Linked DNA regions of Homo sapiens: all the other regions are linked to region 1. Evidence: fine-mapped expression QTL. A gene starts in region 1. Each other region holds a variant in brackets. All regions are shown on one strand. Distances are from middle to middle. Region 1 holds the start of ANO10 (anoctamin 10). Region 2 has its middle 24 kb from the start of ANO10. Region 3 overlaps ANO10 (anoctamin 10). Region 4 overlaps ANO10 (anoctamin 10). Region 5 has its middle 3.9 kb from the start of SNRK-AS1. Region 6 has its middle 85 kb from the start of SNRK. Region 7 overlaps ANO10 (anoctamin 10).

What was found.
Region 2: its variant is fine-mapped to the expression of ANO10 in whole blood (INTERVAL, PIP above 0.99).
Region 3: its variant is fine-mapped to the expression of ANO10 in whole blood (INTERVAL, PIP above 0.99).
Region 4: its variant is fine-mapped to the expression of ANO10 in whole blood (TOPMed, PIP above 0.99).
Region 5: its variant is fine-mapped to the expression of ANO10 in whole blood (INTERVAL, PIP above 0.99).
Region 6: its variant is fine-mapped to the expression of ANO10 in whole blood (INTERVAL, PIP 0.98).
Region 7: its variant is fine-mapped to the expression of ANO10 in whole blood (TOPMed, PIP 0.99).

The regions. Positions count from the first base shown.
Region 1 is chr3:43,620,000-43,624,410 of GRCh38, forward strand. ANO10 (anoctamin 10) reads right to left here and starts at 2,012. Exons shown (of 13, transcript NM_018075.5): 1 at 1,910-2,012. RefSeq lists a silencer at 1,726-2,225 and enhancers at 2,281-2,933, 2,934-3,586.
Region 2 is chr3:43,643,631-43,648,041 of GRCh38, forward strand. It overlaps a transcript of ANO10 not described here. Among named protein-coding and RNA genes, the nearest start is that of ANO10, 24 kb to the left of the region's middle. The variant G/A (reference allele first, on the strand shown) is at 2,151.
Region 3 is chr3:43,442,550-43,446,960 of GRCh38, forward strand. The region is part of intron 11 of ANO10 (anoctamin 10); the gene reads right to left. Among named protein-coding and RNA genes, the nearest start is that of SNRK-AS1, 93 kb to the left of the region's middle. The variant C/CA (reference allele first, on the strand shown) is at 2,573.
Region 4 is chr3:43,562,443-43,566,853 of GRCh38, forward strand. ANO10 (anoctamin 10) reads right to left here. Exons shown (of 13, transcript NM_018075.5): 8 at 3,211-3,285. Among named protein-coding and RNA genes, the nearest start is that of ANO10, 57 kb to the right of the region's middle. RefSeq lists an enhancer at 3,094-3,816. The variant A/G (reference allele first, on the strand shown) is at 1,694.
Region 5 is chr3:43,353,682-43,358,092 of GRCh38, forward strand. No RefSeq gene overlaps it. Among named protein-coding and RNA genes, the nearest start is that of SNRK-AS1, 3.9 kb to the left of the region's middle. The variant C/T (reference allele first, on the strand shown) is at 1,889.
Region 6 is chr3:43,199,576-43,203,986 of GRCh38, forward strand. No RefSeq gene overlaps it. Among named protein-coding and RNA genes, the nearest start is that of SNRK, 85 kb to the right of the region's middle. The variant T/A (reference allele first, on the strand shown) is at 2,636.
Region 7 is chr3:43,421,819-43,426,229 of GRCh38, forward strand. All of the region lies in intron 12 of ANO10 (anoctamin 10), which reads right to left. Among named protein-coding and RNA genes, the nearest start is that of SNRK-AS1, 72 kb to the left of the region's middle. The variant G/A (reference allele first, on the strand shown) is at 2,194.

The sequences.
Region 1 (4,411 bases):
TTAACCATTAAAACAAAGGTTTACTGCTTATAAAAACAGAAGGCTAGAGACAATTTAACTGACAGATGAGAAAAAGGCTTAGTACAGCTCTCATGCAAGCCATGACAAATATATCCATTTGAGGAACACTGATTTTTCACCTCCAAGCACAGTACTAGGCACATAACTAAAACTCTAATATTTAAAAAAAGAATGAATCCACATGATGAATGATTATACAAGCATTTTCAAAGATGTTTAAGAAGAATTTGATCCACAAAAATGCTAAGTGAGAAAATGTAAGGTGGAAAGAAAAAGCAAAAGTATGAAGTAATATAACAATATTACCCCAATTAGGTAACAATACTACCCTAATTTTGTGTACATTCATATACACAAAAATACAAAAATTAGGAAGAAATGCATCAAAATGTTATTACATGTGGCAAAACTACAGATTTTAATTTTCATCCTTATAATTTTCTCTGTCTTCCAAGTTGTCTACAATGAAAAAAGTTGGCCAGCACAGTGGCTCACGTCTGTAATCCCAGCACTTTGGGAGGCCGAGGTGGGAGGATTACCTGAGGTCAGGAGTTCAAGACCAGCCTGGCCAACATGGTGGAACCCCATCTCTACTAAAAACACAAAAATTAGCCGGGCATGGTGGCAGGCGCCTATAATCCCAGCTACTCGGGAGAATCGCTTGAACCCGAGAGGCGGAGGTTGCAGTGAGCAGACATTGTGCCACTGCACTCCAGCCTGAGCGACAGAGCAAGACTCCGTCTCAAAAAAAACAAAAAGAAAAAAGTTTCAGTGGGTTTAAGTGCATTTACACACTTCAATTTATCAAGACTTTTCTATGCCCTTCCATTATTTTAGATCTTTCAAATTTCATTCATCTGCAACTCTACGATTCTTTCAGCAACAGCTGTTCAGAACAGATGATTTACTTTCCATAGCGAATTTTAAACTGTTTATCATGCAGAATGGGCCCTTAGAAAACATCTAGTCCTCTAGATTTGTATGACTTTAAATTAAAAGTAGACACTACAAAGTGGATTTAACCGCTTTAAACCCCACAGGATTAGATTTAAACTCCGCAGGATTTAAGGCAATATGATACAACTGTGTCTTGAGTCTGAATAAACCTCAGCTGCACTTTTTAAGTCTGGGATCTCCATACACCGTCCTGCTGGAATATAAGGTTTTACAGAAGGCAGCGCACACCAATGCTGGTGCTGTGAAGGCACCCACAAAATCAGACGCTGCCTATAGGGGAGAACCCCATTCCATCCACGTTTCTCAGGTGTCCCAGGCACTAGCCAGACAGGTATCTATTATTTAAACTGTACAGTATGTCCCAGTCAAAAGCCTGGAAACTCAGTCACCTCGATGTGAGCATTATCCTGCAAGCCCGCTCCGGCCAAACCTGCTTGGAGACAGCCTAGTCCGCCCTGATCCCCGGACTGCCCGGGAAGCAAGAACCCCGGGACCCGCGAGCTGACCCTTCTAAAAACCACCCTTCACTCCGCTCCGCCGACCACCCCACTCACTGCCTCCTTCCCCAAAGCGCTGAGGCCCCCAACATCCTCCATCCTGACTTCACCAGCCCCAAATTTCCGCCTCACCGCCTTTCTCTCAGGACTCAAACCCTCGCCCCAGACCCATAATCCCCTCCACAAACCTCTCCCCTCCCCTGCGACCGCCGCTCCCCGCAACACCTTCACTCGTCCCTGCCCCCACAGCCCCCGCGCCCATCCTGGTCCCACTTCCCATCCCCAGGGGTGCTGGCACCGGGAGGCGGCCCGGGAACGCAGGGCGGCGACCAGGCGGAGCTCCTGGAGCCTGCAGCGGCCGGGGCTCTGTGGCTGCAAGGGGCCGGGCTCTGCTGCGGACAGCTGGGGGGTCCGAGGTGCCCTCCCCGACTCACCAGCCGCCGCAGCGCTCCACGTCTTCGGAGGCGGGTCCGAGAGCCGGCGAGAACCGGAGGCCGGGCGAAAGAGTGCTCGGTGCGGGGGGCGGGCCAGGCCAGTGGGGCGGGCGCCGCCGAGCGCTGGGCGTGGCGGACGCGGCGGGGCCTAGATGCGGTCACACGCAGGGGGGCGGGGCCGCGGCGGGAGAGGCGGGGCCTCACTGGGCGGTAGCTCCGGGAGGGGCGGAACTGCGGTGGGAGGGGCGGGGCCTCACTGGGCGATCGTAGTGGACGAGAACCTAGACTGGAACCGGTCCGAAGAAAAAAAGGCAGCCCTCATTGGGCTGTCGCCTGGAACAGGAGACCAGGCCGGGAGAAAGGGAGGGGCGTGCCTAACGTACTGTACCACCCATCGAAATCCGGACGGCAGCGGGAGAGGCGCGGCCGAGAAGGCAGAGGCCTGGTTGGGCTGTCACTCCGAGCCGGGGCGGCATGTGGCTGGGCTCTCCAACCGCGAGCGGTCGGGGCAGGGGAAAGGAATACGCCCCTTCACATTTCCCTCTTCCATCTCTTAAAGACCAGAACCTAATTTTCTGGTCACTTTCAGGTATAAGAACAAGTCTCATTTTAACTGTAGCTCACTTTCAAGTTGTGAAAAACGCAGATCCTTTTATAATTAAAACCTAACATCCAACCACAGCCAAATCCCAAAACCCTTGCTCCTCCTAGAAATCGCCAGACACCTTTCCACCTCCAGGCTCAGAGTCTGCCCCAGCCATTCCTTCTGCCCAGAAAGCTCTTCCCTCGGTTGGCTGCTTGGCTCACTTCCTCACCTCCCTCAGTGTTTGCTGGGCTCTCACTTTCTCCCTGAGGCCCTTTCTGACCATCCTACTTAATACCTGTTCTCATCTGCTCCTCACCCCACCATTTCCTTACCTGCTCTCCTATTTCTTCTGTCCACCACACTTTTTGACTTTTTGTTGTTGTTGTTTTGAGATAGAGCCTCGCAATGTCACCCAGGCTGGAGTGCAGTGGCGCAGTCTCGGCTCACTGCAACCTCCGCCTCCCGGGTTCAAGCGATTCTCCTGCCTCAGCCTCCTGAGTAGCTGGGATTACAGGCGCGCACCATCATGCCCAGCTAATTTTTGTATTTTTTGTAGAGACAGGGTTTCACTATGTTGGCCAGGCTGGTCTAGAACTCCTGACCTCAGGTGATCCGCCTGCCTCGGTTTCCCAAAGTGCTGGGATTACAGGCGTGAGCCACCGCGCCCTGCCGGCTTTAAGTGTTTTTAGTTACCCAGGGTCTACCACAGTCTGAAAATAGGTGAGGCCAGAACAATAAGATATTTGGAGAGAGAGAGAGAGACCATATTCACCTTTTATTACAGTCTATTTTTATAATTGTTCTATTTTATTATTATTCATTGTTGTTAATCCCTTACTGTACCTAATTTATAAATGAAACTTTATCATAGTATGTATGTATGTGTAGGAAAAAACATAGTATACATAGAGTTTTATACTATCCTCAGTTTCAAGCATCCACTGTGGATCTTGGAATGTATCTCCCACAGATAATGGAGGATTACCAGCCCCAATGTTTAGAACAGTGTTAGGTCCATAGCAGACAAGCAATAATTCTGAAATGAAAAATTTAAAAAATGAATGAACACTTTCTGCCTCCATACATCCAGCTTTGGCCAGATCAATGCCTCAACAAACTGCAGTGCGGAGAAGGCTGGTCTGTTCTTTACTCCCCACCCTTCTCTGGGTCTTCCAGGTTCCAGGCAGGAGGCAGGGAAACTAAAAGAAAGGAGCAGAAGACTCGTTACTTGGTAGGAGCAGTTTGTCATTCTTTCTAGTCCTCCGATGCTATCATGGCAGCTCACAACATTATTAACCAGTTTTTGTGCAGCTATCTTTTTGTAGGTCCTGTGTGGTTATGTTCAGAAGTTCTCTCTTTCTTCTGAAAATCAGGACAAATTATTTATGAACTTCAATAAGTTTAGACATGAATTACTCCTTAGACTTTTGTTTTTAAATTGTACTCTTCTTATCTTCTCATCCTAGAACGCACGGCCATCCTCCATATAATTTCATTTTCTTATATTTATGTGGCTGGAGGAATTAGGAAGAAAAATGAATGGAAATATAAAAGTCATTTTCTCTTGTATAATCTTATTTCATCTCCACAATTAACAAATTAAAACTTTCTGTTAAGTATAGCAAATTGTTGGACAGCATAAATGGCAAACCTGAGTTAATGACATAGATCCCTATATAGTAGTCCCCCTTAGCCACATTTCAATACCCCCACTGGATGCCTGAAACCACAGATAGTACTGAACCCTGTATATATTATGTTTTTTCGACCTGATAGCCTAGATGGCTGCTAAGTGACCAAAAGGTATGTAGCATTGATATAGTTTGGATCTGTGTCCTCACTTAAATCTCATGCTGAATTGTAATCTCCAGTATTGGGGGTGGGGCCTGGTGCAAGGTGATTGGATCATGGGGGTA
Region 2 (4,411 bases), 24 kb after region 1:
TTTGGAGCTTATCCATTGTTAAAAGCTTTTCATGTACTTGTCCTCATCTTTTCTTTTTTTTTTTTTTTTTTTAGATGGAGTCTCGCTCTGTCGCCTAGGCTGGAGTGCAGTGGCGCAATCTCGGCTCACTGCAAGCTCTGCCTCCTGGGTTCACACCATTCTCCTGCCTCAGCCTCCTGAGTAGCTCGGACTACAGGCACCCGCCACCACGCCCAGCTAATTTTTTTGTATTTTTAGTAGAGACGGGGTTTCACTGTGTTAGCCAGGATGGTCTCAATCTCCTAACCTCATGATCCGCCCGCCTTGATCTCCCAAAGTGCTGGGATTACATGCGTGAGCCACCGCTGAGATAACTTGAAATTGGTCTCTCCTGGTCTGTCATTTGTTTTTTGACCTTGCTTCTTGTATTTTGTTTGTTTTAGGTAGTAAAGTTCACCAATCTTTCCCTGATTTTTTTGTTTGTTTGTTTGTTTGTTTGTTTTTGCTGAATGTTGAAAAGGCTTTCCGTGTCCCCAGGTTATAAAGTAATTCACCTGTGCCAAACCTCCTTGATTGCACATTGTATATTTGGATCTCTGGTCCATTTGGGATTTATTTTAGTGTGAGGTTTAGATTCACTCCATCCTTTTTCAGGTGGCTTTCTATTTGTCCCAACACTATGTATTTAAAAGCCCAGTTTTTCCTCAGGAAATAACTTGATTTAGTTTTAGACTTTAACTTGCTGTAATGCAGCACACAGAGACAAAGAAGCAAACATGGGGGTGGGAGGGTGAGAAATGAGATCAAGGAGTAGACTTGGTTACTCTGCCATAGAGTAGAACTGCTCCCTCCCTCCCTGGAACAGAGAGGAACAATGCACGCACAGTGTGTCTGTGCTGTCCTCCACTGGCCTCTCCAGATCCAAGATCTGGCCTACCTGGCCTGCTCTCCTCCACAAGGCTCACCTCTGTGGATGACATCACTCAGTAGCCTTGCCCCTGGCTTTTGATTGGGTTTACTCTGATGGGGGACTGTCACACTGCCAGGAGATCTGAGCACAAGATAAGAGAAACTGGATTCCCTTTGGCAGGTGCTGCAGTGTGCTCTCCATAACCACCTCTTCAATGGGTCAGCCACCCTTCTGGTTGCAGCTCTTGCTGACTTCTGATAGGCCCTTCCTCCCACTTGCCCTTCAGGCCTGGGCGGTAACACCTTCCCATTGGTGCTGGCACCCTGGGTGTTTCACTGCCCTCAGTTGCTTCCTCAACCTGTCTGCACCTCTGTAAAGAGGCCCTCTTGAACCCTTTTCAGGTATGCCTTCTTGTTCATTGAGTGTGCAGCCTGTGTCCTGCCAGAACCTGGCTGATACCAACGACATCACAAATACATACCAATCCATCTGTCAAAAAGGTAGGCAATATGGCTGTACTCCACCAATCCTAAATTTAAAAATTTACAAAGCCAATAAACAGTCAAGGAGGCCACATCTCATTTAGAGATCTTCAGTGATTCAACTTGATTATTCATTATTTATCTTGATTATCCTCCTTATTCACTATGCAAGGCTCTGGTCTAATTTGTGGTTGGCTTCAGAAAGCAAACGCATCTCAAAGATTTAAGGTTGAAATCCCAGCACTTTGGGAGGCTGAGGTGGGCGGAGCACAAGGTCAAGAGATTGAGACCATCCTGGCCAACATGGTGAAACCCCACCTCTACTAAAAATACAAAAATTAGCTAGGCATGGTAGTAGGTGCCTGTAATCCCAGCTACTCAGGAGACTGAGGCAGGAGACTCGCTTGAACTCAGGAGGCAGAGGTTGTAGTGAGCTGAGATCGTGCCACTGCACTCCAGCCTGGCGACAGAGTGAGACTCCGTCTCAAAAAAAAAAAAAAAAAATTTAAGGTTGAACTCCTCCTAGGGATATTAAAGAGAATATTCTCTGCCTCTGAAGACAATTCCACTAAAAACATTTCTAAAATATTTCAAGCTAGTATTCTTTCTGAAGTGATTGCTTTGAAGTCGGACATGTGCATGTGCAGGCTGTGCTATGTTTGCTTAAAATAAAATAAAAAATAACCCTGCTCCCATTACTCCCAGTCAAGCCCCTAGAGCTATTTCCTGGGCACATTTATTTACTCTGATAGCTCTGCACTTAGCTTTTCAAAGGCTCT[G/A]GCAAAGTTATTTAAGTATCTCTGCCTGGTGTTTTTTATTTTTATTTTTTTGAGATGGGGTCTGTCACCCAGGTTGGAGTGCAGTGACACGATCTGGGCTCACTGCAGCCTCCACCTCCCAAGCTCAAGCGATCCTCCTACCTCAGCCTCCCGAGTAACTGGGACTGCAGGCACGCACCACCACACCTGGCTAATTTTTTGTATTTTTGGTAAAAAGGGGTTTTGCCATGTTGCCCAGGCTGGTCTCAAACTCCTAAACTCAGGCAATCCACCCGCCTCAGTCTCCCAAAGTGTTGGGATTACAGGCATGAGCCACTGCGCCTGGCCTCTACCTGTTTTAAGTAGCTTAGTTGACTAGTGGAAAACGTCTGTGGGAAGTTTCTTATTTTTCTGCAGAGTCATGTTCAAAGTTATAGATTAGCTTGTTTTAGTATGTAAATTTTAGTTGTTTTACTCTGATACAATGTGAAAACAAAAGATTCGAGGAGTTCTAATTCCCATGCTTCTAAGAGGGGACTCTTTCCACTTCCCTATTTTGAGCAGGGATGATGAGGAGGAGGGAGAGTAGACCAAGGGCACACTTCTGCCTGCTACCTGTCCTGATCCTTGTATATGCTCATTGTAACAGCATGTGTGGCTGAGATTGTGAATTCGTCTTTGAGTTAGAGAACTAAGATAACAAATTTATGGTGGAAGGAGCCTTAGAAGACAGAGCCATGGTTATGGTCATGCTGAGTCAGTAGTCTCTACTTTTTGTTTGTTTGTTTTTGAGACGGAGTCTTGCTCTGATGCCCAGGCTGGAGTGCAGTGGTGCAATCCTGACTCACTGCAACTTCCACCTCAGCCTCCTGAGTGGCTGGGATTACACGTGCCTGCCACCACACCACGCCCAGTTAATTTTTGTATTTTAGTAGAGACAAGGTTTCACCATGTTGGCCAAGCTGGTCTTGAACTCCTGACCTCAGGTGATCTGCCTGCCTCAGCCTCCCAAAATGCTGGGATTACAGGTGTGAGCCACCACACCTGGCCTCTTCTTTCTTTACATAGACTCATATGACTGTTTACTTCTAGTTCGGTTCTAAAATGAGAAATTTGTGCTGGTCACACAAACTGTCCCTTTCAAGTATTATGGAGTCATCCCTGAAGGTGGGGGTACAACATCTGGAAGGTAAAGACTGGCTTGTTGTGAAAAGCGGGAAAGAAAAGCACCCTCCCTTCCCAAAGAAGAAAATTCTCTTCGACCTTCCAACTGTTAAGGTCTGGAAGTCTGCCATTGGAGTATGATTCCTTTGATTTATGGGTCCAGTCCAGAAGACTGGATGTATTAGTGTGGATTCTTCAAAGAACCAGAACCAAAAAGATATGTGTATATATGTGTGTGTGTGTGTGTGTGTGTGTGTGTGTGTGTGTGTATTCTATACCCATAGATAAATAGATAGATAAGAGATTTATTATGGGAATTGATTCACATGATTATGGAGGGTGAGAAATCTCATGATCTGCTGTCTGCAAGTTGGAGAATTAGGAAAGCCAGTGGTGTGTGTTGGGGAGTTGGGGGAGCGCTGGTATAAGCCCCAGAGTCTGAAGGCTTGAGAACCTGGGGCTTAGATGTCCGAGGGCAGAAGATGGCTGTCTCAGCTCCAGAAGAGAGAGTGAATTCACCCTCCTCCCACAGTTTTATTCTCTCTAGGCCCTCAACGGCTTGGGTGATGCCCACACACCTTGGTGAGAGCAAATTCCTCTCTACTCAGACTACTGATTCAAATGTTAATCTCTTCTGGAAACATCCTCTCAGGCACACCCAGAAATAATGTTTAACCAGCTTTCTGGATATCCTTTAACCCAGTGAAGTTAAGACATAAAATTAACCATCATATTACACTACTCTGTATTCGAAGTATTCAAATCCTTTTACTGTCTAATTCTAATTACTTTTCAGCCATATCCCCATGGGCTCTGGAAGGAGACAGATTGCAGAGTTTAGGATTCTGATGCAATCACTTAACAGTAGTGTGACATAGATAGACTAAACCTTTCTGGGTTTCAGTTACTTCATTTGTAAAGGGGTAACAATAGCTCAGAATTCATAGGTTTATGTAGGGATTAAACAAGTTTAAATACATGAACAGTGATTAGCATAGCTGTGGCCTCAACTACTACTATTACCATTAAAGGCCCTCATCTCTCTACTTTGGCTGTCGTGCCCAACTCATTGTTACATTCTTTCTTCACCTCTCTCAAGGGAACCAACCTCCATCTAG
Region 3 (4,411 bases), 180 kb before region 1:
AAATGAAAAGACATTCTGTGTTCATGTGCTGTATTAGAACACTTAATATTGTTAAAACGTGTATATCACCCAAAGTGATCTATAGATTCAATGCAGTTTCTAACACAAAAGATTCTTAATCTCCAACAGGGTCAGCAAACTTCTTAAAAGGCCACGGAATAAATATTTTAGCCACACAGTCTCTGTCACAATTACTCAACTCTGCCATTCCTTGCAACATGAAAAGCAGAATATATAAACAAATGGGTGCAGCTGGGTGCCAATATAACTTTAATAATAGGCGGCAGGAGGATTTGGTCCTTTGGCTGGGGTTTGCCATCCTTTGGTATAGATTGTATAGAAAGACTGAAAACTCTATTTAATCAGTTAATTAACTCATATGAATTTGTTAAAAGATGAGAAAGCATCACAAAATGTGTGCCTCAATAACATAATGACTAGGACTCTTCTCTGGAGTTTAAAAGGAATTCTCTGGCAGTGTCTTCAGGCCCTATGCCCTGGTGGTCACCCTGAGAAGACGTCTTCAGGGCAGGGCTGTGTCTATGACCCAGCTCACCTTGCTCCACTCCAACCAAGCTCCATTCCTAGTGTGCTGAGGATCCACACAGGGAATGACAGGGAACCACTAATATCACAAAAGGCCTAGGCCTCTGGGCTGCCTGCATGGGTGACTTTCCAAGATCAGTCGAGTGAACAAGGAGTTGGTCTTAAAAGATGTACAGCAAACCCTTGAAGCTTTGCTGAAAAAACAACTCACAAAAAGCAGATTAACAGGAGAAAAGATGTGATATGGATTCAGTTAATGAGAACTCAGGGAAGTGACCAGCAGTTAATTGTTTTCTTCTTTGGTAGGTCTGGACTTTAGGCAGACAAGGGAACTTTAGAGAATCTAATGCTTTGGGAGAGACAGTATGGGGGAGATCAGGGAGACCTTGAGGCTCCCTTTTCAGTTCAGCATGTCAAAGTGCAGTATTTGGGGGTATTGGTTTCTGAGTCTCAATAAATATTAATAGCTGGAATCTAAAAGAAGTATACAGGGAAAAAAGGGAATATGTTAGAAGAGTCAAAACAATGAGAGAGGGAGAACTGCTCAGTATGAAAGCATGAAAAGTATTTTACTTCCTTCCTTCTTTTTTTTTTTTTTTTTTTTGACGGAGTTTCACTCTTGTTGCCCAGGCTGGAGTGCAATGGCACAGTCTCGGCTCACTGCAACCTCCACCTTCCAGGTTCCAACGATTCTCCTGCCTCAGCCTCCTGAGTAGCTGGGATTACAGGCATGCACCACCACGCCTGGCTAATTTTTTTGTATTTTTAGTAGAGACGGGTTTCACCATGTTGGCCAGGCGGGTCTCGAACTCCTGACCTCAAGTGATCCACCTGCCTCGGCCTCCCAAAGTGCTGGGATTACAGGCATGAGTCACTGCACCCGGATCCTTCTCTATTTCATCATTTAATAGAAAAGGTGATTGGGGGAAATATCAATTAGACCAAATTAATGCAAGAAAATAATCTAAAGGGTTACAGACAAATTAAATCATGTGTCTCATTGGCTCTTCTCTCTTAAAATATAATCTCCATTGTAGGGACCTGCTAATCAAGAGGCTTGTTGTAGTTGAGGGACACTGAATGATGGGGTTGTCATTTGTCCCTAGGGTGAGAAAGCTGGCTTTCAAGGCTTTGGCATGCCCTGTGTCACCAAAGAACACATCTTATACAGCTTAAAGCAATTTACATGTGTTAAAGTTTGTTTTCCTCTCATTCAGAGCCACATTTCATGCACAAAGCAGTTTCTAGAGCAGATCTGATGATGGTGAAAGGAAATAAAATCTGTAAGAGGGTTATGTGTGATTTGGAGCTTGCTTTGTTTTTTCAACAATTATTTTGATCACTTGACAAGTAAAAAAACCAAGGAACATATAAAAACTGTGTGCCCAGAAATATTCTCTAACTAAGGCCTACAAAGCAAAGTGATATCTTAAGATTATGATTTCATTCTACTATATACTTACTTCATTTACTTTAATTGTATCAAGTGAGAATTTAAGTCACAATAGAGAAATACACACTTGTAAACCTTAAACTGTTAGCTATAAGGCAGATGTGGTACCGCAGGGGCCACAGGAAAGTGGGTGGCTCTACAACAGTGCAAGGAGAACACACAATCGACCTCCTGTGGTCACCTGACACAGTCATGGCGAGGACGGCAGGGTGCAGGACACTCCAGGTGGCCTAAATATATGTCAGAGTTAGAATAAAAAGCAAGGCTCAACTATGTTAACTGCAAGAAATCCATCTTAAATAGAGGGATTCAGGTTAAAAGTTAAGAGATGCTGGGAGGCCAAGGCGGGCGGATCACTAGGTCAGGAGATCGAGACCATCCTGGCTAACACGGTGAAACCCCGTCTCTACTAAAAATACAAAAAATTAGCCAGGCCTGGTGACAGGTGCCTATAGTCCCAGCTACTCCGTGGGCTGAGGCAGGAAAATGGCATGAACCCGGGAGGAGGAGCTTGCAGTGAGCTGAGATTGCACCACTGCACTCCAGCCTGGGCTACAGAGTGAGACTTTGCCT[C/CA]AAAAAAAAAAAAAAAAAAAAAAGTTAAGAGATGCACACAGATCTTGGTTTCTAATACCATTGTCCAAAACAAAGGAACCAGAGCTCCTTGGAAAAATGGCTGAGTCTAGGACCGCAGCAGGAAATATACAAGATGAGTCTTATCAGATAAAAACTAAGGAAATCTGAATAAAGCATGAACTTTAGTTAATAATATTAATAGTTGTTCACTAATTATAACAAGTGTACCATACCAGTGTTAGATGTTAAAAGTAGGGGAAACTAGCTATGGTGTATATGGGAACTATCAGTTCTAGCTTGTTAACTTTTCTGTAATCTAAAACTATCTTAAAATTAAAAACTTTATTTTAAAAAGACTTTTACTTTATCATATATATTTATCCCAAAATCACAGGTAAAACAATGAATAATTAAACTAGGATTCCAAACAAACCATCTAAAAACAACTCAGCAAAATCTGCTAAACCAGTTCTCAGGTTAAGGGTGAATATCCTGAAAATGACCTACATCTCCCAAATCTATGACCATGTTTCCTTACATTAGAAATATCATTGCCTACAACACAGGCAATGCATTTTTTTTTTGTATTTTTTGTTTTTGAGACGGGGTCTCACTCTGTCACCCAGGCTGTGTAGTGGCACTATCTCAGCTCACTACAACCTCTGCTTGCCGAGCTCAAGTGATCTTCCCACCTCAGCCTCCAGAGTAGCTGGGACTACAGGTGTGCACCACCATACCCAGCTAATATTTGTATTTTTTGTAGAGACGGGGTTTTGCCATGTTGCCCAGGCTGGTCTTGAACTCCTGAGCTCAAGCAATCTTCCCACAGCCTCCCAAAGAGCTGGGATTACAGAACACCAAACCCAGCCTTTGTTCTGTCAGGAGCTGTCCAAACACTGATGAGAGTAAAGACAAGAAGCCTGGCGGAGAGAGAAACGTATAGATATCACTGTGTGTAGAATTCTTAGAGTGGGTGATCACTTTGTGACCTCCACTGTCATCAGCTTCGGGGCCCAGGGTTCATGTCCCACATTTTATTGTGCCTTAGGGCCTAACAGAGCATGTGGATTCAGGAAGGAATGCTTCCCATCTTCTACTTCTCAGATTGCATTTAAATTTACTCCTTGTTGAACTTATCAGCAATAACTCAAGCTTCTCAGGTTTTGCTTTAATGTAACCTTTGATATCTTTGTCAGAGCAAGGGAAGTGGGAAAAATGTACAGAGGCAGTGGATATAGAAGAAAGGGGATGAAAGAAGTAAAGCCAACTGGCAAGTCTTTGCTCTGAGAGAGAGCAACTTCATACAATTGAACAGAGAGTTTGTAACAAAAAAGAGTTACAACTTTTTATAACTGCATATTTTTTTCAAAGATAACATTTTCTGTTCTCCGCTGATATATTTTCTTGAAGAAAATACTGGTTTATGGTTTATTACTTGTTATGTTCTTAAGATATGCTTGAGGCACACTACTGTCAGAAAAGTAAGGAGAAATTTGAACTACTTCTTTGAGAAAGTCAGGTTTTCACTAGGGAGACCCTCTCAGTTACAAAGTGACAATAACAATCAATTTTAACAACTCAGAACTTGCCATACCGAAAACACTCGAGGGAAGATGAATATTCATAGGTAGATAAAAATAATTTTTAAGGTTTAACAACAGCAAAAGCGATTTATCCTAGCTATTCTGAATTTATTATTAAAAAATGTATATACCTATATCTTTTTGAACTATAGTTTGAAGGTAATACAGTCACATGGTTAGGAAAAAAGGTATAAAGTGATACCCCTACCCCTGCCCTCATCTTCCCAATGCCCCACTGTGCCTCCTGCCCACATGT
Region 4 (4,411 bases), 58 kb before region 1:
CTCTGTCTCAAACAAAAAAAAAAAAAAAAGAAGTTTGAGACCAGCCTGGCCAACATGGTGAAACCCCACCTCTACTAAAAATACAAAAATTAGCCAGGCGTGGTGGCGCACATCTGTAATCCCAGCTACTTGGGAGGCTGAGGTACAAGAAACGCTTGAACCTAGGAGGTAGAGGCTGCAGTGAGCCAAGGCTGTGCCACTGCACTCCAGCCTGGGCAACAGAGTGAGACTCCATCTAAAAAAAAAAAAGAAGAATGTATATTGGAGAAAAAACACCCTCTTCAATAAATGGTGCTGGGAAAACCAGGTATCTATATGCAGAAGAATGAAACTAGACCCCTCTCTATCACCACAAACAAAAGTCAACTCAAAATGGATTAAAGATCTAAACATAAGACCCAAAACTATAAAACTACTAGAAGAAAACATAGGGGAAATACTACAGGACATTGGTCTAAGCAAAGTTCCCACCATTTTATGGCTAGGACCTAAAAAGCACAGGCAACAAAACCAAAAATAGACAACTGTGACTATATTAAAGAAAAAAGTTTCTGCACAGCAAAGGAAACAACACAGTGAAGAGACAATCTGTTGAATGGGAGAAAAGATCTGCAGACTACTCATCTGACAAGGAACTAATACCTAGAATACCAGAATATACAAGGAACTCAAACAATACCAAAAATACAAATAATCCCATTAAAGTAGGCAAAAGACATGAATAGACATTTCTCTAAAGAAGACATTTACATAGCCACAGGTATATGAAAAAATACTCAACACCACTCATCATCAGGGACATGCAAATCAAAGCCACAATGAGATATCATCCTACTCCAAATAGAATTGCTATTATTAAAAAGACCCAAAAAATCCAGATGCTGACAAGAACGTGCAACAAAGGGAACTCTTATACACTGTTGTTGGTAGAAATGGAAATTGATACAGACATTATATAAAAGAGTATGGCGAGAGGTTTTTTTTTTTTTTTTTTTGAGACATCTAAAAAAAAACCTGAAAATAGAACAACCATAGAATCCAGCATTCTGACTACTGGGTATTTATCCAAAGGAAAAGAAATGAGCATATCAAACGGACACCTGCACCCCCATGTTTACTGCAGCACTATTTGTAACAATAAAGAAACAGAATCAACCTCAGTGTCTATCAACAGATGAATAGATAAGGAAAATGTGGTATATATACACAATGGAATACTAGTTGGCCATAAAAAAGACTGAAATTCTGTCAATTGCAGCAACACGGATGGAACTGGAGGTCATTATGTTAAGTGAAATAAGCCGGGCACAGAAAGACAAATATCACAGGCTCCCACTCACACTTGGGAGCTAAAAAAGTTGATCTCATAGAGATAGAGTGGGACGACGGTTACCAGAGGCTGGGTGGGTGTGTGTTGGGGAGAGGAGGATAAAGAGAAGCTGATCGAGAGGTACAAACATACAATTAGAGAGAAGAAATAAGTTCTAACATATGAGAGCAGAGTAGGGTGATTATGGTTAACAATAATGTATTGTATGCTCCCAACATATAGAAATGATAAATACTCGAGATGATAGATACTCTAAATACCTTGATTGATCATTACACATTTTTTTTTTTGAGACACGGTCTCACTTTGCAGTGCAGTGGCGTGATCACAGTTCACTGCAGCCTGGAGCTCCCAGGCTCAGAC[A/G]ATCCTCCCACCTCAGTCTCCCAGGTAGCTGAGACTACAGGCAAGTGCTACCACACCCAGGTAACTTTTTGTATATTTGGTAGAGACAGGATTTTGCCACGTTGCCCAGGTTGGTCTTGAACTCCTGGGCTCAAGCAATCTGCCTGCCTCAGCCTCCTAAAGTGCTGGGATTACAGGTATGAGCCATTATGCCCGGCCTTCATTACACATTTTATGAATGTAACAAAACAGCATATGTACCCCATAAAAATGTACAACTATGTATGTATTATTAAAAAAAAAATAGAAAAAAAGAGCCACCCATAATTACACAACCATGACAAAACCACTGCTACTTCTTGGGATATTTCTTTCCAATCATATATAAAAATAAAACTATAATTATCCTATATGGATACACTTTGTTTACTGCTTTTCTCACTTAATATGTTTGAGCATTTTCCCGTATCATTAAAAATTCTTTTTTACTTGGCCTGTACACTGCTGTTGAATTAACTATTACTCCCAATTTTGGCTATTATAATGCTGGTGCTTGGATATCTATGTACATGAATCTTTGCTCCTCTCTGAAGATTTACTAGGGATGAGTTAAGTTTCTTGGCAAAGCTATCAAGAGAGCTGGTTTCCAGAGATGTATCAATCTCCACTTTTCTCAGATAGATATGAATGTTTCCATCACACCCCACCTTTGCTGGTATTACAACTGTTTTTTTAAGCGGTCCTCCTCCATTCCCCTATCTTCTGCTAAGTAAAGGAGACTCTCTAAAGCAGAAGAAATGAGAAGTCACATCCAACTAATACACTATTACATGGGACCACTGTTACATGTACATCCAACTCATCAATTCCAAATGTACTACTTTAAACTTTCTCTATTTTGAAAAATAATTTTTAACAAGTGGAGTCTAGCCTTTGAGACTGCTCACCAACAATCTCAGAATATTAAAACTGGGAAAAAACAGCCATTTACTTATAACTGGTTCAAATATAAAAAGGAGAATTTAGAAATCAATAATTTGTTCTTAATTTATTATTCATTGGTATTATGTGATCCAGAAATGACAACACACCAAAATAAATGTCAGACACTTTAGAAAAGATACAGCACTGCATAGGATCCACTGGTCTCTAAAGTTTAACAACTTATTAACTTAAAAATTAAATTTGCGAGACCTAAGGTTACACCAATCATCCCCATCCAAGGCACACAAAACAGTTCAGTTAATGAATACTATATTTTTGCTGTTAGAGTTGCTTACAAGCTTTGAGGTGAACTATATAATTGATTTTACTGCCCTATACTTAATTTTTCAGGTTGGTTAGGTTCAACTCATTTCAGTTGAGCATAATACACAATGCCATTCCTAATAATTTTTTATTTAGAATTTGGCTTAAAAACATACAAAATTTAAAAGATTTTATTTGTAAAAATAATTTGAAGGCAATTACAGCATCTAAAGATAGAAAACCACCTCTATGACCTAAAAAATTGGTATTTTTCTGTTATTTTTACTTACCTGGCGCAAAAGCTTCATATCTTTCAAGACAAAGGCAATATAGAAGAGTGAGGCAAAGCAATTGAGGAAGTTGAACTGCCAAAAAAAAAAAAAAAAAAGATAAGTGTTAAGCACTGCTTTAGAGTACTTTACTACAACTGTAATGCAGCATTTAAAAATGTAATGGGAGCGGGGAGGAGCCAAGAGGGCCGAATAGGAACAGCTCCAGTCTACAGCTCCCAGCCTGAGCGACGCAGAAGACGGGTGATTTCTGCATTTACATCTGAGGTACCGGGTTCATCTCACTAGGGAGTGCCAGACAGTGGACGCAGGTCAGTGGGTGCGCGCACCGTGTGCGAGCCGAAGCAGGGCAAGGCATTGCCTCCCTTGGGAAGCGCAAGGGGTCAGGGAGTTCCCTTTCTGAGTCAAAGAAAGGGGTGACGGACGGCACCTGGAAAATCGGGTCACTCCCACCAGAATACTGCGCTTTTCCGACGGGCTTAAAAAATGGCGCACCACGAGATTATATCCTGCACCTGGCTCGGAGGGTCCTACGCCCACGGAGTCTCGCTGATTGCTAGCACAGCAGTCTGAGATCAAACTGCAAGGCGGCAGCGAGGCTGGGGGAGGGGCGCCCGCCATTGCCCAGGCTTGATTAGGTAAACAAAGCAGCTGGGAAGCTCGAACTGGGTGGAGCCCACCACAGCTGAAGGAGGCCTGCCTGCCTCTGTAGGCTCCACCTCTGGGGGCAGGGCACAGACAAACAAAAAGACAGCAGTAACCTCTGCAGACTTAAATATCCCTGTCTGACAGCTTGGAAGAGAGCAGTGGTTCTCCCAGCACGCAGCTGGAGATATGAGAATGGGCAGACTGCCTCTTCAAGTGGGTCCCTGACCCCTGACCCCCGAGCAGCCTAACTGGGAGGCACCCCCCAGCAGGGGTACACTGACACCTCACACGGCAGGGTATTCCAACAGACCTGAAGCTGAGGGTCCTGTCTGTTAGAAGGAAAACTAACAAACAGAAAGGACATCCACACCAAAAACCCATCTGTACATCACCATCATCAAAGACCAAAAGTAGATAAAACCACAAAGATGGGGAAAAACCTGAACAGAAAAACTGGAAACTCTAAAAAGCAGAGCGCCTCTCCTCCTCCAAAGGAACGCAGTTCCTCAGCAACGGAACAAAGCTGGATGGAGAATAACTTTGACGAGCTGAG
Region 5 (4,411 bases), 270 kb before region 1:
TGGATCCTTCATGTCTCACTTTTAAACTGTTAGGGCAGATCCTGAGCAGTCTTCAGTCTAGGGCTAATTTGGCCCACTACTGAGGCAATACCTCTCTAGGGACTCTATTGAGGCTTTTCTACTCTGGCTGGTAGGAACATGAACTATTACCAGCCTTGGGTAAGTTCTGAGCATTGTTCAGCCTGCTGCTTTCCAGTGGTTCTTTCTCCAGCCTCAGGTAGTTTTCTCATAAGTACTGATCAGTACTCAACCAAAGACCACAGATTTTCTTTTGGAGCTTGCTCACTATCTGTGCAGCTCCCTCCTCTCTGCCCTGCACATTGATCTTGAACTTCAAACTACCTGCTCAACTCAACCAGACTATTTGGGCTTTCCCTCTCTGTGTTCTGGCAACTGCCTTTGGGCAGTGAGCTGGGGCATTCAACTCAGGGCTCACCTCATTTGCCTCCCTTCTCTCGGGGTGACAGCCCTATGCTGTCTGTTGCTCAATGTCTGGAAACTATTGCTCCATATATTTTGTTTGGTTTCCTAGTTGTTTAAGGCAAGAGGGTCAATCAAATTCCTCTAATTCTATCCTGGCCAGAAACAGCAGTCTAAATAGTGGGTCACTCCCCTGCTCAAAATCCTTCCATGGCTTTCCATCTCAGATTTAAAAGTTTAATCCTTGTGTGGTGGCCCACAAGGCCCTAGTGTGTCCTCTGCCCCAGTTATCACATCTGCTCCTCTCAACTTGCTCATTCAGCTCTGGCTGCAATAACCTCCTTGCTAGTCCTTGAACAGGCCAAACACAGGAGATGTCACACTTCGGGTGGTTATCAATCCATGGCCCTTCTGCCCCCTACAGCTGCTCAGCAGGGACGAGGTTTCTCAGACTTCTGGGATCTGGGGAGAGACAGATGAGAAGGGGAAATAGGATGTAGCCCTTTTTGAGCTATTAGGGCCTAAGGACATTGTGACTACCAGGGAGAGAGTCATATTTTTCAGGACGTCTGAATCCAGGACTAAGCACTTGCTGGACACCTCACTCTGAGCAAGGTGTTACAGATTGGCAAGTCGTCAGAAGAGAAAAAAATGAATCGTGGTTCTTGCCAGTTCATAATGCCCTTGGAGAAGAAAATGGTGATTTAAATTAGCACAAGTTGATGGATCAGAGGTGGTGATGTGTCTGCACAGCACCGCTATCAGGGTCAGGGAATTCGAAGAAGGGCGAAGCAGGGAGGAAGAATGCAGAGAGTGGAGAACTGAAGAGTGTGAGCAGGGCTCCAATCATCTGGAGGTCCCTGTGTGAGCCACAGGAGGTAGCAGTGGACTTTGCTGAGACAGCATTCATTTTGCTTCTTGATTCCTTTATCCTTTTACAAGGACTCCAAGGTTTCTGGATTAGAAGATGAAAAGAGTGGGGGTTAGGGTGGGGCCACTGGTAGAAACAGTCACTAAGGGGAACACCAGCATGAAGGTGGAAACAAGACTGAGTCAATGTCCTGCTGGCAGAGCTGGCTTCATGTGTGTATGTGACCTTTATACTCATTTGGGGGGCACCACACTTAGAAGAGTCCCACACTAAGTTTGATGCTCTGCTGTTGTTTTAAAATTCATTGCCACATGGCACATACTCTAAAATTGATCACACAGTTGGACATAAAACAATCGTCAGCAAATGCAAAAGAAGTGAAAACATACCAATGACTCTCTTGGACCATGGTGCAATAAAATTAGAAATCAAGACTAAGAAAATTGTTCAAAACCATAAGATTATACATGGAAATTAAATAACCTGCTCCTGAATGACTTTTGGATAAATAATAATGAAATTTAGGCAGAAATTAAGAAAGCTACCAGAAGACAAGAAATAACCAAAATCAGAGCTGAACTGAAGGAGATTGAGACA[C/T]GAAAAACCATTCAAAAGATCGAATCCAGGCATTGTTTCTTTGGAAACATTAATAAAATAGACTGCTAGCTAGACTAATAAAGAGCAAAAGAGAGACAATCCAAATACACATAATTAGAAACAACAAAGAGGATATTACCACTGACCCCGCTGAAATGCAGATAACCATCAGAGAATATTATGAACACCTCTATGCACACAAACTAGAAAATCTAGAAGAAATGGATAAATTTCTCAATACATACATACACCCTCCTGAGACTGAACCAGGAAAAAACAATCCCTGAACAGACCAATAATGAGCTCTGAAATTGAATCAGTAATAAATAGCCTACCACCCCCAAAAAGCTCAGGACCAGACAGATTCACAGCCAAATTCTAGCAGATGTACAAAGATGAGCTGGCACCATTCTTACTAAAACTATTCTTAAAAATTGAGGAGGAAGGACTCCTTCCTAGCTCATTCTTTGAGGCCAGCATCATCCTGATAACAAAAACTAGCAGAGACTCAAGAAAACTTCAGGCCAATATCCTTGATGAACATTGATGCAAAAATCCTCAACAAAATGCTGGCAAGCCAAATCCAGCAGCACATCAAAAAGCTTATCCACCATGATCAAGTAGGCTTCATCCCCAGAATTCAAGGTTGGTTCAACATATGCAACTCAATAAATGTGACTCATCACATAAGCAGAAATAAAGACAGAGACCACATGATTATCTCAATAGATGCAGAAAAGGCTTTCAACAAAATTCAACATGCTTTCATGTTCAACTCTCTCAATAAACTAGGTATCGAAGGAACATACCTCAAAATAATCAGAGTCATCTGGCCGGGCATGGTGGCTCATGCCTGTAATCCCAGAACTTCGGGAGGCCACGGTTGGCGGATCATGAGGTCAGGAGTTCAAGACCAGCCTGGCCAACATGGTGAAACCCCGTCTCTACTAAAAATACAAAAATTAGCTGGGTTTGGTGGCACGTGCCTGTAGTCCCAGCTACCCGGGAGGGAGGCTGAGGCAGAAGAATTGCTTGAACCTGGGAGGCAGAGGCTGCAGTGAGTGGAGATCGTGCCATTGCACTCCAGCCTGGGCAACAGAATGAGACTCTATCTAAAAAATAATGATAATAATAATAAGAGCCATCTGTGACCAACCCATAGCCACATCATACTGAATGGACAAAAGCTGGAGCATTTCCCTTGAAAACTGGCACAAGACAAAGATGTCCTCTCTCACCACTCCTATTCAACATAGTATTAGAGGTCCTGGCCAGGGCAAGTCCTGGCAAGAGAAAGAAATAAAGGGCATCCAAATAAGAAGAGAGGAAGTCAAACTATCCTGTTTGCAGACACATGATTCTATATCTAGAAAACCCCGTAGTCTCAGCCCAAAAGCTCCTTCAGCTGATAAACAACTTTGGCAGTCTCAGGAAACAAAATTGATGTACAAAAATCACTAGCATTCCTATACATCAAGAATAGTCAAGCCAAGAGCTGAATCAGGAAGGCAATCCCATTCACAACTGCCACAAAAAGAATAAAATATCTAGGAATACAGCTGACCAGGAAGGTGAACCATCTCTACAATGAGAACTACAAAATACTGCTCAGAGGTTGCAGTGAGCCGAGATTGCACCACTGCACTCCAGCCTGGGCGACAGAGTGAGACTCCTTCTGAAACAAACAAACAAACAAACAAACAAAACACTGCTCAAAGAAATCTGAGATAACACCAACAAGTGGAAAAACATTTCATGCTCATAGATAGGAAGAATCAATATCATTAAAATGGCCATACTGTCCAATGCAATTTACAGGTTCAATGCTATTCCTATCAAAATACCAATGACCTTCTAAACAGAACTAGAAAAAACTATTTTGAAATTCTCATGGAACCAAAAAAGAGCCTGAATAGCCAAGGCAATTCTAAGCAAAAAGAACAATGCTGGAGGCATCATGCTACCTGCTTTCAAACTATATTACAAGGCCACAGTAACCAAGACAGCATGGTACTGGTATGAAAACAGACACACAGACCAATGGAACAGAATAGAGAGCCGAGAAATAAGTCTGCACACCTACAACCATCTGATCTTTGACAAAGCTGACAAAAACAAACAATGGGAACGGACCCCCTATTCAATAAATGGTACTGGGGTAACTGGTTAGCGATATGCAAACTGAAACTGGACCCCTTCCTTACATCATATACAAAAATCAACTCAAGACAGGTAAGAGACTTCAATGTAAAACCCAAAACTATAAAAAACCTGGAAGACAACATAGGCAATACCATTCTGGACACAGGAATGGGCAAAGATTCCATGACAAAAATGCCAAAAGCAATTGCAACAAAAACAAAAATGGACAAATGGGATCTAATTAAACTAATGAGCTTCTGCACAGCAGAAGAAACTGCCAACAGAGTAAACAGACAACCTACAGAATGGGAGAAAATTTTTGCAAACTATGCATCTGACAAAGGTCTAATATCCAGCATCTATAAGGAACTTAAATGTATA
Region 6 (4,411 bases), 420 kb before region 1:
TGAAAGGATACTCAAGGAAAACACAAACTCAATTCTGAGAGAAGTAGAAGATATAAAAGAAAACTCAAATGGAACTTTTGGAGGTGGAGAATATAATATCTTAAAAAAAACAAAACTTGAACAAAAATCATTATCTCATTGATACTAGAACTCATTTTCAGGCTGTCAAGTGATAATTGAATCATCACTTCCTTGGAGAAGCCTCGCTGGCTGGAACAAACCTAATATTCTGGGCTGTCACAGTCTTCAGCCTCCTCTTCAAAGCACTTGTCATAGTCATAGTACTTCCATTATCTGTGGAACTATGCAACTCATGTCTGTTTTCCCCACTACACCACAAGGTCTAAGAGAGCAAGAGCATGTTTTTGCCTACCTCTGTACCAGTGCCCAGCCAATGCCAAATATGAAGTAAGCACTCCATAAATATATCTTGAATATATGAATGGACTTCTATAATCAGCTTTGCAGTGTATTCATTTGGCAACTCTTGTTTAATGCATCACGCCTGACTTCTTCCTTCCTTCTTCATCAGCATAGTGATGCTGTTTGACCATGAGGTCCAGCTCTCATATGGCCTCATAAAATGGGCTTCCTGCAGGCACTGTTGAATCCTGAATTAAGTGTGAACAGATGATTCACTAAGCGACCTGGAGCAAGTTGTTTAACCTCTCTGATCTTTGGGTTTTTCAGCTACTAAATAAGAATATTGAAACAGATTACCTCTAAGAACTCTCCCAGCTCTCATGTTCCAGGATGCTGGTTGTGGTCCAGTCTCCAAAAATGCTGCTCCTCCGGGCAGGATCCTCACTTACCTCCTGGTGGCCATACTCTTCCTGAATTGAACTTGGGCTTTCTGTGTGACCGATAGAGTATGGTGAAGAGAACGGTGAGTGGCTTCTGAAGGTAAGCCATAAAGGGCACGGCAGCTTCTGCTTTGGTCTTTTGGATTGTTTGCTCTAGGGGATGCCAGCCACTACGTCATGAGAACACTCAAGCCACCACAGGGAGAGGCTCTTGAAGAAAGTAATTAAGGTCTCGTGCTAATAGTGAACTATCTTGGAAATGGATCCTCTTGCTTCAGTCAGCCTTCAATTGGCTGTAATCTCAGCAAACATTTGACTTTAACCGCATGAGAGACCATAGCCACAACCTCCCAGCCACACCACCCCTGAATTCCTGACCCACAGACACTTTGAGAGACAATAATTGATTACTGTTCTTTTATTTATTTATTTATTTTTATTTTTTAGAGACAGTCTCACGTTGTCACCCAGGCTGGAGTGCAGTGGTGCAATCTCGGCTCGCTGCAACCTCCGCCTCCTGGGTTCAAACGATTCTTGTGCCTCAACCTCCCAAGTAGCTGGGATTACAGGCACGCACCACAACACCTGGCTAATTTTTGTATTTTTGGTAGAGATGGGGTTTCACCATGTTGGCCAGGCTGCTTTTGAACTCCTGGCCTCAAGTGATCTGCTCGCCTTGGCCTCCCAAAGTGCTGAGATTATAGGCATGAGCCACCACGCCCAGCTGATTATTGTTATTTTAAACCACTGAGTTGTGGAATAATTTGTCAGGCAATAATAGATAACTAATATACCGGTACTGAAAGCTTACCCTTCCTCATTCTTTAAAAACTTCTGCCACAAAGAAAACACAAAAGTGTTGTATAAGCTGAATCCCCAAAACAGAAATCTTTCCTAACTTGGTCACCAACTTGGATGCCTGGGATTTAACCTGAAAGTCTCAATACAAAAGCCCTCTTTGTTCATTTGGCACCCAAAGACCTGATGACACCCAATCTCCATTCTGCTCCTCCCTCTTTTCCTTCTTTTTCTCATCAGCCATGTTTCAGTCCTGTTTTAACAATTCTACTCCCATTCTGCTGCTGATTTCCTAGGTGCCCTGGGGACATGTTTCTTGCTCTTCTGAATGAGCTTTCCAAGTTCCATAATCAGTTTGAATATATCACAAGCACCTGTGGGCACTTGGCAGGTGCTGAACAAATATTATTTCCTGCCTTGGTCTAGGTCCTTCAGAAAGCAGAAACTGAGCAAGGATTGAGGTTCTAATTTGCTTAGAAGTTGCAAGCCCAGAGCAATGGAGATGAGGGGGCAGAAAATGAGGGAAGAGAAGTCATGAGAAGTAATGCAATGCACTACTGTGATGACCTATTTCACCCACCATAAGCTTGGATGGGACACCAGGTTGCATGTTTACTTAGTATAAAGAGTTCTCTGAAAAGGCTGCAGGAAGGATTAATGATGCAGAGGCACCCACAAGACAGAGTAGGATGGGGGAAGTTATCTGCCCTGCGCCCATCTGTCTTCTATCTCCTAGGTCAATGTCCACTTCCTGAATAGTTACTAACCTTGCATTATCCAGTCCCTGATGACTGCCCAAGAAACCAGATCCCATGCCCCATGGTGAGGTGTTTCACCCAGTCCAAAAGTGGAGGGCATCCGGGAGTGAATGGGCACTATCCAGAAGAGGGTACGAAGCCATAGAGGGAACCTAAGAAGATATATAAGGTATGTCTCCTTATAGTTATCCTCTTGGTACTGTTTCCAAATTCTCAGACACTAATTTGCTAGCAAGCACAACTATAGAAAGACCTGGATTCTTGTTGCCTTGACTG[T/A]ACCCGTTCCTCAAACTTGTAACGTGGGTGGAAGATAGAGTGAGGCTGCATATTTTTGTAAGCTGACCCTTGCAGGCTCCAAGACAGATGGACACACTCAAATCTTGGCATGTAAAATGCAAGACTCGCTCTTTCTTCAGGTGGCTAGAAGGGAGATCTTATCTGTCAGTTGAGGGGGTCTCTGAGACAGTAACATTCGCCCAGCAGTTTAAGAAAAATGTAATTTAATAGAGTAAAACCAAAGCTTTTGAGCAGTCATTGGGCTGATTTTGACGAAAATTCCCCAAAGCTCTTGTTTTTTGCTAGGAAGAGAAATGTTTCCTCCTAAGAGTTTTTCAAACCTCTACTTAAATTCAACAGTGGCAAAGTGGCTGTGCTCAACAGATGGTGGATGCAGGAGTCCCTCAGAATTCCAGTGTACAAGCCGGGCATGGTGGGTCATGCCTGTAATCCCAGCACTTTGGGAGGCTGAGGTGGTTGGATCACTTGAGGCAGGAGTTTGAGACCTGCCTGGGCAACACGGTGAAACCCTATCTCTACTAAAAAATACAAAAATTGGCCAGGTGTGGTGGCACATGCCTGTAATCCCAGCTACTTGGGAAGCTGAGGTGCAAGAATTGCTTGAACTCAGGAGGTGGAGGTTGTAGTGAGCCAAGATCATGCCACTGCACTCCAGCCTGGGCGACAGAGCAAGATTCTGTCTGGAAAAAAAAAAAAAAAAAAAAAAAAAGAATTCCAGTGTACCAAGAGGCTCAGTCCAGCCCTCATTTACAGAGGAGGATGGGTGGGTGGGTGGATGCTTGGGTGGATGAATAGATGAGGTAGCTGCTTAGTTTTGGATATTCAAGAGGTATTGTCTGCACCCAACCCCTTAAACAGGCAAACAAGAAAAAGCATCAGTGTGGGTTTTTACTGTCTTGAATCATTCTCTCTGACATGTATTTCTTGTCCCTGACACAGCTACCCCCTCCGATCCCCCACCCTTCTGGTTTGTTATCAGCTCCATGCTGTCTCTTTGCATTAAAGTGACAAGAAGCAGCACAAAGCTGACGACAGGAGGCCAGAGCTGTAATTTGCACTGACATTCACTGGCGTTATCCACTTATTGCCTGGTAAGCCAAATAGGAGATTTGTCTGATTTTGATCCCAGGAAGAGAAATGACAACCCTGCTCCACTCTTGCCATTCTAAACAAGGCACCAAGCTGGTCCTCAGGTCTGAGTTCTGGCTGGCAGTGACCCCTCGCAAAATGTGGGTCTTCGCTATCATTCCTCCTTTCCTCCTCTGGCTGAAATTTCCTTTCAGGCCTGACATCCGGCAAACACTGAACTAGAGATTTTGGTTGCTGAAGAGTGAGTACTACTGTCATTTTCTCAGCTAGGGGTGGTACGGTTCACAGGTCACCATGAGGCCTCAAAAAACTATTTGGGGAAAGAGTCCTGACTTCCCCTTGGAAGTCAAACCCCAGCTGAAAAATACCTCAACAATTCTCTTTCTGCCTCCCAGACCCTGCCCAAGCTGTAAGAGAAACAAGGCTGAACAAGAGGCTCAAGAGAAGTGGCATGAAGGGAGTTAGCCTGCGAGCAGGGCTTGCTACATAATTGGCAAGGCCCAGTACAAAATAAAAAAGTAGGACCCTTGCTCAAAAAAGGGGGGGAAAGTGTTGTTAAAAGCACTAAAATGTAAAGCTTTTGTCTTTCTTCTGTGATCTCTCTCTGATGTCATGACATTTTTAAAAATCTGTTATGTAATGTTGTTCTTAGTATAAATAAATTAT
Region 7 (4,411 bases), 200 kb before region 1:
CGGAGTAAGACCATGTCTCCAAAAAAAAAAGTTTTTTTATTGTGGTAAAATACGTGTAACATAAAATCTCTACCTCCCTCTTCATAACTTTTTCATCTAACAGTATAATCTTTTAATTTCCTAAAATATTTAATAAAAAGTAAATAAATGGATACATAAGCCAATCCTAGGCATTTACCTGCAAAAGAAGAGCTGCTCTCCCATATGTTGACCATCATGGCAATGCAATTATTAATCTAATACAGAATATGAGATTGGAACTCTAACTTTAAAAAAGAATACATCTTTTTTGTTGTTGTTGCTATTGTTGTTTTTTGAGATGGAGTCTCGCTCTGTCGCCCAGGCTGGAGTGCAGTGGTGAGATCTCAGCTCATTGCAACCTCTGCCTCACGGGTTCAAGCGACTCTCCTGCCTCAGCCTCCTGAGTAGCTGGGATTACAGGTGCGTGCCACCATGCCCGGCTAATTTTTGTATTTTCAGTAGAGACGGGGTTTCACCATGTTGGTCAGGCTGGTCTCAAACTCCTGACCTTGTGGTCCGCCTGCCTCAGCCTCCCAAAGTGCTGGGATTACAGGTGTTAGCCACCGCGCCCACCCTTTTTTGTTGTTTTTAAATATAGTTTTAAGCATTCTGATATCTCTAGAATTTATTATGAGGCAAGTTTTTTCTTTACCAATGCAAATACATTTGAATGACATCTGTGAAAATGGTCCCAAGCACACAGCCATCACTTCTACAGCATAGTGGCCCCAAGGCCTTTCTCTGTGGAATGGACCTGTGCCTCCAGGCCCCCTCTTACCACATTGCTTCCAATCTATCAATGGGGTGACTTGAAAAATGGTAAATTTTATTCCATTTCACAGCCTATTCAGTAGTTTTCATAAGAAAAAATAAATCTGCCTATGATTTGGCCATGTTTCTCACATCTACGGGGAATATTAAGATATATAAATTTTACAGTTTGCTTAGCAAACCAATGAGATAAGTAGTCACTTACATACATTGTTTACTGAGGAAGACAACGATCAGAAGAGCTGTAGTTTTATTTTACTGTCTGGATGCCTCTGTGCACTTTAAAGAAATTTTTCTCTAGTGAAAACATAAAATACAGGAGGAAAAAGTCTACCCATCAGTGATAAAAGGAGGATTGCTCCAGAGCCTGAATTAGTTTTCTAGCTAACAAGTACAAGTGCAAAGTACAAACTATTTTAGAATTCTTTCTTGCGTGATTTGGGGTTATTTTACAATCTTGGGGAGCTACTCTTGTTACTGATGTCAATCACAGTCAGATTTTTTTTGGAAAAAAAAAAAAAAGGATTTGAGCTTTATCAAGGCAAGGTATGTGGTCCTTCTAAAGTGTCCACATACAATTCTTCAGAATGCATTCTCTTCCCCAGTGATCCCAGAAAGGCACATGACCTGTTTCCATTTCTGCCAGAGTATCTATTTTAAGACTCTTTTTTTTGTCCAAGGACATCATTTGTCCTTATTTATTTAATATATTGGCTTGTGAATTACATGTGAGTCAACAAACTCAGTTTGATTAAGTGGATATTTATTCAGAGTCTATTGGGCGCCAGGCCCTATGCTGGGTGAGGGGACTCAGCAGTGAGTGAGTCATCACCTGGCCCTCGGGGACCTCGCAGCTCACAAGGGAGACTGAAACAGAACAAACTATAGTGGGGCAAATGAACAGAAATGGGCACCAGGCTCCTGTTACACAATGGGAAGAAGGCTTTCTCCAGGAGGTGGGGTCTGTGAAGCTGACTGCAGAGGGCAGGTATACTGGTGGTCAGAGTTACAAAGTAGGAGTGCTTGGGAATCTTGCTAGACCCAAAAGGTGCAAAGGAGCCAGTATTTATTTGTGCATTAATCATCTTTAAAGGAGGTTATCATTTTATCAATTGGAGAGAAATTTACTGTGCAAAAAATTACCTGCAAATGGCTAACAGACCCTACCGTGGAGAGCTGTTCTGAAGAGACACTGGCACATGCAAAAGGTTTAGAACAGTGCCTGGCTCATGTTCTCACACACTACATGTCAGCTGTTACTACCTCATTGTTATTACAGCCCAGCTGTGTTAGGTCATGAAAATAGGTGGGATTGCCACAAAGGTAGAATTCTGACTCTCCAGGCAAATCTGATGTTACGGTACCATTTTATCCTAGAATTCCTTGCTGGGTTCACCCAGC[G/A]AATGCATGAGTTGGTCCTCCTCCTCCCTCATCATCCTCATTCCCCCAACACACTGCTCCATAATGGGTCTTACTCACATTGCCTCATTCCAGCCTCATTCTGACTTTGCCCCATTTGAGTGTTGGGGGGACTCTAATACAGGAAGGTCAAGTCACTTCTCTGCAGCTACACAGGGCTGAAACCTCCTTTGCAAAAATCGTTGCAGTGAGAAAGTTATGACACTGAAAGGGATCTGATCTAACCAACTCCATCTTGCTTCCAACCTCTAAGCTAGCTGCCCTTGCTCATTCCTAGGCAAAGGCCGAACTAACTTTGGAAGAAACTTAGTTTATAGTTTAACTTTGAAACAAAGATGATTAACAGTCCTTTCCTGAAACAAACTCCTTTCTTGCCTGGGAGCCAGACCACCTTTATAAAACTAACAAATTAGCCACAAGACTTGCAACTTCCCCAGTTACTCCTGCAGATAACATGTAGAATCTAAGATCGGTCTTTTAAAATCTCTTTTCCAGTTTTTGCATTTCTGAGGACTGATGGCTCCACCAGATTCACCAACCAGTCCTGTGGCCCTCACCCAGGAACTGACTCAGCTGAAGAAGACAGCTTTGACTCACTGTGATTTCACCTCTGATCCAATTAGTCGGTACTCCCCATTCCCTGGCCCCCTACCCACCAAACTATCCTTGAAAAACTCTAGTCTGAATTTTTGGGGAGACTGATTTGAGTAATAATAAAACTGCTCTCATGTTCAACCTGCTCTGCATGAATTAAACTAGTTCTCTAGTGCAATTCTCCTGTCTTGATAAATTGGCTCTATCTGGGCAGCGGGCGAAATGAACCCTTTGGGTGGTGACAGGGCTGGAAGACAAACCTTCCAGTGAAAGAAGAAAGGGAGAGGCAGGCTCAGACAGGCCACCCAAATGATAGATATACCATAAACTTTGGTACTTTTTACTGGGCCTAGACCTGACTTGGGGCCCCAGGAAGTAGACCACCCCTTCCTAAGGACTGTGGCTATTGGCTTTGTTAGAGGCTAATTCTGTATTTGGATTTAACATTTCATTCTGAACTAGATGTTAGCAGATTAATATGTGATTACCTATTCAATAGTCAAATACTTTAGCACCTTAATTCTAGGCTGTAAAATTTTACAGTTTCCATTAAAAATGCTTATGTATTTACTGTAACTTTTTTTTTTTTTTTTTTTTTAAATAGAGATGAGGTCTTGCCATGTTGCCCAGGCTGGTCTCAAGCTATCTGTCTGCCTTGGTCTCCTAAAGTGCTAGGATTACAGACATGAGCCACTGTGCCCAGCCTCTATTTACCTTAACTTGAGAGCACAAATGGAGCGGGGGGAAGAAGTTCAGAAGTTCTTACGAAATGTTGAAAAAAACCTATTAAATTAGGTTAATATTTAACCTAATTTAACACTGAATACTTAAATATAAACCAAAAATAAAATCCTAAGCTGCTCAACTAACAGAACGGACCCCCTCCCCTGGGCCAAAGGGACCTCAGAGAATCCTGGAAAGCTGAATTCTCAGCCATGACAGGGAGGTTGGCAGGCCTCATTATACATTCTCCCTTTTGGAGTTTAGGTACAAATGACTACCACCAGCATTAACATTAAAATAGAGATCATTAGACTGTCAAAACAGACCCTTTGTGGCAGTAAGATAACAAATTGCAACCTGGCTGCAGTACAGCATCACATGACAGATAGCAGACCCCAAAGGAAATCAAATATTTTACCCCACAATATATTTCTTTGACGTATTTTGAAATGGTTCCACAATACTATCTCTTGTGGGGGAAATCTGCGTCTGTAGAGAATATCCATTAATACAGCCAGTCCTTTCCTGGATCTAGGAGAGATGAACCAAGAGTCTGATACCTCTTAAGGTCTGAAGAAACATTTACCATGTATCCCCTCTGAAGGGTGCTACCATCTACCCAACAAGAACCTTGGCTTCCACAAACCCCTTTATCTTAACTCAGGCATTTCCTTCTACTGCCTCCAGGTCTTTAGACAAAGCTTGACTCTTTCAACCAATTGCCAATTTGAATCCACCTATGACCTGTAAGCCCATCCCTCCCCCGCCTCCACACCTTTCACATCGCATCAATGTATACCTCACATGTATTTATTTATGTCTTTCTCTGTAACTTCTGTCTCCCTAAAATGCATAATGAAACCAAACTGTAACGTGACTGCCT